Regions from separate parts of the Homo sapiens genome. Here region 2 is linked to region 1. Evidence: fine-mapped expression QTL. A gene starts in region 1. The other region holds a variant in brackets. All regions are shown on one strand. Distances are from middle to middle.

Evidence for each region. PIP is the estimated chance that this variant, and not a neighbour inherited with it, causes the effect. A credible set is the group of variants that fine-mapping cannot tell apart.
Region 2: its variant is the best candidate, but not a certain one, in a credible set for the expression of MXRA5 in nasal epithelium (TOPMed, PIP 0.54).

Annotation. Positions count from the first base shown.
Region 1 is chrX:3,343,785-3,349,158 of GRCh38, forward strand. It overlaps MXRA5 (matrix remodeling associated 5), which reads right to left and starts at 2,868. Exons shown (of 7, transcript NM_015419.4): 1 at 2,731-2,868; 2 at 1-77. The coding sequence starts at 49.
Region 2 is chrX:3,534,442-3,539,815 of GRCh38, forward strand. No RefSeq gene overlaps it. Among named protein-coding and RNA genes, the nearest start is that of SNORA48B, 4.9 kb to the left of the region's middle. The variant A/G (reference allele first, on the strand shown) is at 2,239.

The DNA.
Region 1 (5,374 bases):
GCAGGATCAGCACCACGGAGAGGGCCCCCCAGTGCGCGCGCTTGGGCATCTTGTCGGGGTGCCTGATTCTCGGATACCTGAGGTAGAACAACGAAGAGATGAGCTTATTCACAGGTAGCACCGACGAACTGTGGGCAATTTTTAAATTTGAATTGTGCATCAGGGTTTCAAGCTTCCCAGGACTTCACACGATGTGTTGTAGTGACGCTTAAACCATGGGAATTGAGAAAGATGAAACATGGTTTTTTTTCTAAACTTTTCACCATTCACTTTAATCATGACTATAGAATATAGTCTTGATTCTTGGCTTCGATACTATGATTTGGAAATCTATCTTGCACTCTGTAATTGCGGCTATGAAACAGAGAGAGACGAGAGAGAGAGAGAGAGAGAGAGAGAGAAGAAAGAGGTTTATATTTATGTATCCATAATTAAAAAATAATAAAATATTGTGTTTCTGCCTCCAACAAGACTGAGCCATTATATATTGCATATATTTGAATTTAAAACTTCCCAAGAAGTGTTTATTCGTATTCTTTCCTTTAATGATATTTTTCAAACCTTTAATTCTAGCTTCTTGAAGAGCTTAAAGAGGTATTTGCTAGAAGGATATTCATCCTGTTATTTCTGGGTTTATTTACTATCCTTATGTTTTTGTCTTGGAAAAGCCAGAGAGTTTTTTTGATGATATAGAGTTGCTGTTAATCGGGGAGGAAGTTTGGGGGAACCTCTGATCATTCAATAAACAGGAAGGGACTGCTTATGAAATATATTCAGGCAAACAGAAAAAAATGGAGTCACTAAAAAATGGAAAAGCTCGGGTAAAGCTAGATTGCATCAGCTACTTCATTTAGAATGGCGGTGATCATTTTCTTCTTGTCCTGGCAATGCCTATGTCATCTAACATTTTTGTCATCTCTTGAATGGCGTTCACTTAAAAATAGTGACACACATGGAAAGTAAATAGGGATACACAACAAACACGCGCCTGCCCATTCGCCCGGGTTCTGAACGAGCGCGAACTGCTGATTAAAATTCTAAAACCCAGGCCGGACTCGGTGGCTCACGTCTGTCATCCAACACTTTGGGAGGCCGAGGCGGGCGGATCACCTGAGGTCAGGAGTTCGAGACCAGCCTGACCAACATGGAAAAACCCCGTCTCTACTAAAAATACAAACAAACAAACAAACAAAACAAAATTAGCTGGGCGTGGTGGCGCATGCCTATAATCTCAGCTGCTCGGGAGGCTGAGGCAGGAGATTCGCTTGAATCCGGGAGGCAGAGGTTCCGGTGAACCGAGATCGAGCCATTGCACCCCAGCCTGGGCAACAAGAGCGAAACTCCGTCTCAAAAAATAAAAATAAAATTCTAAAATCCTTCCTATAAGAGAGGAACATCCCAAACCTGTAGCTTTTCCTGCCTTTAAGTGACCTAGAAAAGGTTATTCTCTTAAGCCCGGGGGCGCGTCTCCCTTCAGCTGCCCATAAAGAACTGATGGCGCACAGGTAGTTTTGCAAAAAAGCAAGTCCGGGCTCCGCCTCTGGGCGCTGGAACAAACCGGCTCCTGCAGCTCTGCAAAAGTCCTCGGAGTTTTCTCTCTCGCCAGAGCCCGGGCTTTCCCCGCCCCTGCCTGCGCGCCTGACCTCGGCGCTGGGCTGGTTCCAAGGGCAGCCGCGCCAGTCCCCAGCGTCCTGTGCCTGCGGGCGGACTTGGCCCGGGCGTTCCATAGGACTCTTCAGCCCCAACTCCCTGTCCGGCCTCCCACCCCGGCACCAACCTCCCGGGAGACCCAGGAAACTCGCCCCCAGACAACCCTAATCCCGGGGACTCGGGGTCGGGTCTCTCCGCCGCGGAGAAAGCGGCCTGGCGCCAGCTAGGCCGCCAGAGACGGTCTGCGAACCCCGCCGGGAAGCAGGGGTGGGGGCGTGAGGCCGTCTGCTTTCGTCTTGGCCCTGGGCAGACAACCTGGAGTGGCCGGGCGGGCAGCCCTGAGCCCCTGGCCGGCTTCCAGAGTCCGCTGGGTCGCGTCGAGCTGGCTGCGGGATGAATTACGAGCTTTCCCGGAACGCGGCTGGGGTGGCCCTGCGAGTCCCCGCCGCCCGGGACTCGGACACCAAACCCCTTTTGTCTGCGTGATGACTGTCCCGGTTTTTTTGCATGGCTCGGATCACTCTAGGCGTTGGGCTGTCCCCTTTCCAGGGAAAGCCTGGGTAAGAGTAGGAGGAAAGAGGCGGGGAAGGAGAGGGGGAAGAGAGGAGGGAGAGGAGACTTGAAGTAGCCACAGCCTGAGCAACTTGGAAAGAGGCTCCTCAAGCGTCCTTTCCCCCACCGATTGCAAGAGCAGAGTGGGCTTCACTTAGGAATTCCGTTGGCAGCTTCCTAGAAACGCGGGATGGCGGGGTTGAAGGTCTCCAGAGAGAGCCAGGGATGGGGAGCGCTTTGGGGAGAGGGAGGAAAGGAGGCATGGGATGTCTGGGCTTAATTAGACCTATTCAGTGCATCCTCCTTCAAGATCCGGCTCTCCTCCCTATCTGATCCTTAGCTACTTAAAATTGCAGGAATTCAGGTATCCTGATTTCTTAGCAACTTCAAACAGTGCTGGGGAACGGTGCAATCTGCCTGCATGCAGGCCCTTTACCCCCAGTGTTTCCCTTGGGTGTCTCAAATCCCTTCACCCCCTGCAGGCAGACACGGCAGCCCTGGGGCGCCCTGGCCACCCTGGGTCCTCACCTGTCCTTGGGAAGCCGCCGCACACGGGAGCGGTGCGCCGGGAGCATCCACCGAGCCGGGGCGCGCGAGTCACGGCCGGGAGTTTGCCGGGGCCATGCCCTTCCCGGGGCCGGGGGTGAGGCAGCTCGGCTTCCCAGCGCGGCACAGCAAGCCGGCGCCCTTTTATTCCCGGCGCTGCGAGGCTTCCCCAAGTCCACGCCTCGGCACACCCCCACCCTGCCCCACCCCGGGGAGACGGGGCGCGGGCCCGAGCCAAGGGACCCTGGCCGCGCCGCTCTGCGCTCAGCCTTCCTCTCGCGTCTTCATTGCGCCTGGGCCCGGGTGGGCATGCCTCGCCCACTCCAGCTGCAAGAACCGCAGGCGGCTCGGGGAAGGAGGGCTCTTTGTCAGAGAGAAGTCCAGGACCCCAGGAGGGAAGGGCGAGATGCAGGGAGCGCGGTGGGAGCCGCAGTAGAGTCCGCGCTTGGAGAGCGCCTAAGCAGCGCTGGGAACGTTTCCGTTCCTTTCAGGAGAGAGAGAAGGAGCAGGGTTTGCGCTTCTCCGGGCCAGACGGTGTTTTCTCGGCAGCTCTTCCCAGACCGTGTGCAAGCAGGAGCGGGCTGGCCCCGCCGGCATCCCACTAGCTGCAGGCAGGGCTGCAACGTGAGAGCCGCCGCCACGCCCTCCCGCCTCTCCAGGACTCCCCGGCGCCCGCCTCCCTCCCCTTGCCAGAGTCTTCCTGCCAGAAAGGTGGAACGGCTCCCCTCCGGCTTGGGGAGCATTCGAGGGGCAAGGCGAGGGTTGGGACGTTCGGAGAGTCTGATGGTATTGTCTGGGGAGGGGGCGGTGGGAGGGTGGGAGCGACCTGGCGACAAGGCAAAAAGTAGAGGGTGCAGAGGGTAGGTCCCTATTCCAGGAGGCAGAGGAAGAGGAGGCGGCGGCTGCCTGGCTTCCTGGATAAGTCAGACCTGGAATGGTGGGGAGAGGTCAGGCGAGTATCTTCAGTCAGCAGAGCCAACCTGGGGTAAAAACATGGAGCTCAGACAGGTGTGTAGGGCCCGGAAAGGCACCATTGCACCAGCTTGTTGTAGGGTGCACCAGCGACTGCTTTTCGCTATACCTCTGGTTAGCCGTATTCCTCTCCCTGAACCAGCATTTTGACATGTCCTTAGGGTCAGTGTTTGCCTGTTGTGTTCTTTGATCTACAAAAGACATCTGTGAGTATAAAAAAAATTTTTTTTACAAGCCCAGTGGTACCATGTACTTGTACAACGAATCCTGTCTGCTGAGATGCCCCTGAAGCAGGCTGATGGCGTGCGGCATTTATGTATGTGTGTATGTATGTATATATGTATCTATGTATTTGAGACAGAGTCTCGCTCTGTTGCCCAGGCTGGAGTGCCAGTGGTGCGATCTCGGCTTACTGTAACCTCTGCCTCCGAGGCGCAAGCGATTCTCCACCTCCGTCCCCCATGCAGCTGGTACTAGAGGCTTGCGCCACCACGCTGGGCTAATTTTTTTTTTTTGGTGCGGACAGGGTCTCACTATGTTGCTCAGGCTGGACTCGAATTCCTAGCCTCAAGTGATCCATCCACCTCGGACTCCCAAAGTGCTGGGATTACAGGCGTGAGCCACCCAGCCCAGCAGGCATGCAGCTTTTAAAAGGCAATGCATGGAGAAAGTATAATTGAGAAGTGCCTGCTCTTTAGATTCAGAAGTCCTGCCCTACGTCCAGCACTCTGTCAGGGGGCTTTCAGGAGGAAGGAAGGACTAAGCCTAAGAAACAAGTTGCTTCCCCTGCATGAAGCGTGGTTCATCTTAGCTCCTCCTAAGAAACACAGCGTCTAGGAATTCCTCACCACCTGCCTCCTGCGCCTAGGGTGGCTTCCACAGAGTTGATAGTCAGGAAATACTGGTTCATAAATGGGAATTCATTCCTTCTCTAGCTTTAGTTTTCAGTGTGTGTTGACATAGTTCCAGGGATTAGTCAAATAATGCCCTTAGGTAGCCTCTTTCTGGGCATGCCCCAAACCCATTGATTAAATCACGAAACAAAACAAAACAAAAAACAACTGTCTCTTGAACATCTCTTTACCCTTGTTAATGATGTTGCCACCCATCTCGTCAGCTAAACTAGAAACTCAAGCCATCCTTGCCTTCTGCCTCTCCTTCATGTCTTCCTCATAGTCAACTGGTTGCCAAGTTTAGATCCTGATGCCTAAGAATCTCTTGGCCCAACGTGTTCTTCTCTCCACCTCTCTCACTGCGGTTGCATGGATATGTCTTAGATTTTGACAACTTCTTCCTCCACCAACTCCTTCTCATTCATCCCTTCCAGCCCATCACTGAGACTTAGAGGGATGCCATCATCCTCAAACCCAAGGCTGAAGTTTTCCATGGGTGGCCTGTGCCATGCCCTGTGCTTCCCAGCCTGTCCCTGGGATCTTCCTTTTGGTGATAGATCTGGCTTGTCAAGAACAAGTAGCACATCCCTGATTTTTGTTGTTGTTGGTTCACGCCACTGTTTTGACAAAGTTCTCCTCAATCTCCATTGTATAGTATTTCCTTACCTCCATGCCCATTGCTAAAGTGGGCTTTTTTCCTGCATTGTGGACAATCACTCACCTTCTTTTTATGCCGTCATAGCTTCTTGACACCTGGAGTA
Region 2 (5,374 bases), 190 kb after region 1:
AGGAGAATCTCTTTTCATTTACCCCTGACTCCAAACATGCATGCAAACAGATGGGTGCATCAGTAGAATAAGTTCACATTCATCTACCAAAGGGTTCAATAAACTAAGAATTACATGATCCTATTTGGGGTTAAAACATAGAAATTTTGGTTTCTTCCAATAATAACAACTTTGCACTAGTAGTTCACTATCTAGAGCAAATAAACTAGAGAAGCATGGTGACTATGAAATAAAAATCACAACTGAGTAAGACTTTTAGAAAGGAGACAGTATGTATTCACTGACAGCCACATATTTCAGCAAGATGCACCAGGTAGTTGTTCTTGAGAGAATTAATAACAGATGAATCTCAGGTTCAGAAAAGGCAAAAGTAAAAACAACAAAACTGAAAGCTACAGACAACTTGGAACAAGAATGTTCCAAAAAAAATCTGGCTTCAAGATGCTCAGGAACTAGATTCCTTCCTTTTATCTCTTCTACCACCCTAATACATGACTTTCATCTTCAAGTTTGCCTCATGTCTCAGTGTGAATGCTGAAGCTCCAGCCATTGTATCTACATCCCAGAAAGCAGATGAGGGAGCAGTGAGGAACAAAATGGCCTCTGCGCCAAGTGAATTAGCTCTTTCTCTGCAGTCTTCCTAAATGTCCCACGACATTTCTACTGCAATCCTATTGAACTTAGTTACTTGGCCCCAACTAGTTGAATGAGAGGCTAGCAACTATAGTTTGCTCGTTAAGTTTGGAACATTACCACCTCAAAACAAATTTGAATTCACTTGAGAAAGGACTTCAGGGCAGGCTTGTAATCCCAACACTTTGGGAGGCTGAAGCGGGAGGATCACTTGAGGCCAGGAGTTCAAGATCAGCCTGGGCAACATGGCAAAACCCTGTCTCTACAAAAACTACAAAAAAATTAGCTGGGTGTGGTGGCAGGTACCTGTAGACCCAGCTACTTGGGAGGCTGAGGCAGGAGAATCACTTGAGCCCAGGAGACGGAGCTTGCAGTGAGCCAAGATTGCGCCACTGCACTTCAGCCTGGGCGATGAGAGTGAAACTGTGTCTAAAAAAAAAAAGAGAGAGCGAGCGAGCGAGCGAGCGAGAGAATGGACTTCAGTTATCAAATGCCAGTTTCTGCTCCAAATGCCATGGAATAACCGACTTGATGAGAGCTTAGAGATGACAGCTTAGAGATTGGTCAAGGAAGATTTGTGAGCCACGAACACCAGCTTCTAGAAAAGCAGTGCACACTCCTCTGCAGGCTCACTCCCAAGCAAGCCAATTGTTCACTGTGGAGTTTGGGTCTCCTGTCCCTTGCTCCCTTCTCCTCACACATCCCCAGTCACCCTGGAGGTCAGAATCTAAAATGGGTCAGCAGGGCTGCTGTCTTTGGGAGGCTCCAGGGAAATCGTTTCTTGCTTTTTTCTGACTTCTAGAGGCTGCCTGCATTCCTTGGCTCATGGCTCCTTCCTCTGTCTTCAAAACCAGGAGTGTTGCTTCACTTCCCCCTTCTCTGTCTGTCTCTGCCTCTCTCTTCTCTATCTCTCCTTGTGCCTCTGTCTGTCTCAGCCTCTCTCTGTCTCTCTTTCTGCCTCTGCCTCTGTCTCCCTCTCTCTGCCTTTCTGTCTCCCATTCTCTGTCTCTCTTTCTCTCTGTCTCTCTTTCCCTGTGTCTCTTTGTCTCTTCCTGTCTCTCTGTCTCTGTCTCTCTCTGTCTTTGTGTTTTTCCAACTCTCGTTGTCTCTCTCTGTCTCTGTGTCTCTGTCTCTCTCTCTTTGTGTGTGTGTGTGTGTGTGTGTGTGTGTGTGTGTGTCTCTGTGTGTCCCTCTCTGTCTCTGTCTGTCTTTCCTTCTCTTTCTCTGTCTCTCTGTCTCTGTCTGTCTCTCTCTGCTTTCTTCATCGCATGTCTTCGACTCCTTGCTGCTGCCCTCTTCCAAGGAGCTTGGTGTTACACTGAGCTCATCTGAATAATCCAGAATAATCTCCCCTCTCAAGAGCCTTAATCTGGAAAGTCCTGTTTGCCATGTAATGTAAAAGATTCACAGGTTTCTGAGATCAGGACATGAACATCTAGGGACAGGGGAGACCCACGTTGCAGCCCATGGCAACCACTTTAGGATTCTCAATAAAATAATAGAGTCAGCCAGGCCCAGTGGCTCACACCTGTAGTCCCAGCTATTCAGGAGGTTGAAGTGGGAGGATTGCTTAAGCCCGGGAGTGAGCTACGACTGCACCACTGC[A/G]CTTCAGCCAGGGCGACAGAGCAAGACCCTGTCTCAAAATAAACACATTAATTAATTATATAGAACAGAATTTGTTTTTCTAAAAGGTATTTACTGTTTTGATGACTGTTATCTGAATGTTTCAGGTAATGGATTTTATTTATTTATTTATTTATTTATTTATTTATTTGTTTGTTTATAGAGCTGGGTTCTTGCTTTGTTGTCCAGGCTGGAGTGCAGTGGTGCAGTCATAGTTCATTGCAGCAGTGACTTCCTAGGCTCAAGTGATCCTCCCACCTCAGCATCCGGAAGAGCTGGGACAACCGGTGTGCACTACCACACCCTGCTTATTTTTCAAAACATTTTAGTAGAGATGAGGTCTGATTATGTTGCTCAGGCTGGTCTAGAACTCCTGTGCTCATGTGGTCCTTCCACCTCAACCTCCCAACGTGCTGGGATTACAAGTGTGAGCCACTGCACCTGGCCATGCTGATTTTAAAGCCTATTTAAATCTTAAAGCATTACATTGTCCTCCATTTGATGGCATAATAATATTTGTGACCATGTTCATATGACAGTGCTTAAACATGTTGAGTGTTCAGAGAAAGAACCACTGTTGCAGACTGACTGATGTTTAGAATGCCTTGTGGACAAAAATATTACAAAGAAGAAAGAAGTAGTTTTCTTTAGCCCTCAGAAGACTACTTGGTGAATAAACCAGTGACATTTCACTTTAAAGAAAAAATTAAGCAGGTAGGGTTTGCTTCAAAGTAAATGTGTGCTGAGCATAGGAGAATAAGAAGTGGAGAAACCTTGTATACATGGAAAGGGTAAAGTTAACTCTTGGAATGTGGCTAAAATTCAAGGTAAGGAACACAGCAAGTTGTCAGAGTCATAACATGAATAATTAAGGTAACACAGATAGAATTTTACAAATTCAGTTTGCAAAATAAATATCCAAAGAATGACTGAATAATTAGTAAGATCTATAGTTTAGCATTTAACAAAAAGGATTCACTTCGGATGCTGATCTGTGAGCCAATCTGTGTCTATTTCCATTCCTCTTTACAGCACAGCTGTCATATATTCGCTATAATATGATAGATATGCCAGGCATGGTGGCTCACACCTGGAATCCCAGCACTTTGGGAGGCTGAGGCGGGCGGATCACCAGAGATCAGGAGTTCAAGACCAGCCTGGCCAACATGGCGAAACCCCGTCTCTCCTAAAAATACAAAAAATAATATAAGCAGCCGCTTTTCCCTGGCACATGGGGTCTCCTCTCTTGGCTTTGGAGCCCCCTCCCTCTGTCTCTGCACAGGGGAGCTTCTTCCATCTTTCTTCTCCCTTCTTTCTTTCTATTAAACTCTCCGCTCCTTAAAGCCAAAAAAAAAAAAGATTTAAAAAATACACATACAACTACAAAAAATAGCCAGGTGTGGTGACGCACGCCTGTAATCCCAGCTAATCGGGAGGCTGAGGCAGGATAATTGCTTGAACTTGAGAGGTGGAGGTTGCAGTAAACTGAGATCGTGCCACTGCACTCCAGCCTCGGTGACAGAGTGAGACTCCATCTAAAAAAAAAAAAAGAAAGAAAAAAGAAAAAAAAGAATAATATGATAGAAAGATAGATAATAAAATAGTAGATTAACAGACGATACATGATAGGTAAGGTAAGTAGATAGATGATAGATAAAATGATAGGTTAATAGGTAATAGAATAATACAATAACAGATGATAGAGATGATATGTAGACAATACATAAAATGATTGATAGGTGACAGACATGATAGCTAGATAGATGACTGACAGAAAGATAATAGATGACTGCCTGACAGATAGATGATAAACAAATAGATGACAGGTAGATAGATATGATAGGAAGATGATAAATGATAGTCAATAGATAGATATGATAGATGATAACGATAGCTAGATGATAGATAGATGATAGATAAATGCATATGATAGATATGATAGAAAGATGATAGATAATATAGAGAGATGATAGATAGATAGATAGATAGATAGATAGATAGATAGATCAATAGATAGTACATACATACTTTCATTTCTATGGCTACTTTTTAAATAAATGCCTAATGTTTTATATGTTGACATATAAAAGCGTGTGTTCAGCCCAACTTCCATTGTGAAAAACAGCATGTGAAATCTAACACCACTCAAAGAATTTGGTGCATTTTCTTGGCTGTAGTGCTGGTCAAGTTTGGCCTCAACTGCCTAGAGTGAGCAGCAGAATCAGGGTAGGCGGCCGGAGCAGTGTAGAGCCCCATCACCCCACTCAACAATGACACAAACATGAAGTGAGGGCTGGACTCGGGAGATAAGAGGTTGGATACAGTGGACAGGTCACCAAGATTCAGAGTCTACCATGAAAATCAGACAGTGGGGCTTATAGTGGAATGGAGAGAGCAGGACCTAGGACCAGGGTGGTGACTCAGTGGGTCCACATGAATACTCATTGATGGTAGTTAGTAAAGAGGGGACATTTTTGTGGAGTCAAGATCCAAGCCGTGGGAACTCTGTCATCTGGTCCCAGAAACTGAGACCTAAAAAGGCTTTTATCTATGAAGAATTTTGACAAAGGCATACTTACTTACCTGAACAAGACAACAGTGTCAAAATATAGAAGATGAGGGGCAAAAAGAGAGAACAAGGCACTGGGTTTCCCCAATATCTTCAAGGGACATTACTAAGCTCTTAAGATGAAACACATCCCATAACCCGCACCATCACCAGGAGATGGGCACTATTCTCATCTTCATCTTAACAAATAAGACAATGGAAGTTCAGAGAGATTAGAGAATTTGGCCAGGTTTCCACAAGCAATAAGCAGAAACACCATTGCTTGTAAGAACCTGATCTATAATAGTGCAAAGGCAGTCTAACACTTATTTACAGTTCAAAGGATTGTAACAAGTAGATTTTTTTTTCTGTGTTACCCCCACCCCCCTTAATATTTTCATTAGCCAGCATTTAAATTATAAGCAGAGGTCGGGTGCAGTGGCTCACGCTTGTAATCTCAGCACTCTGGGAGGCCGTGGTGGGTGGATCACTTGAGGTCAGGAGTTCGAGACCAGCCTGGCCAACATGATGAAACCCCATCTCTACTAAAAATACAAACATTAGCCAGGT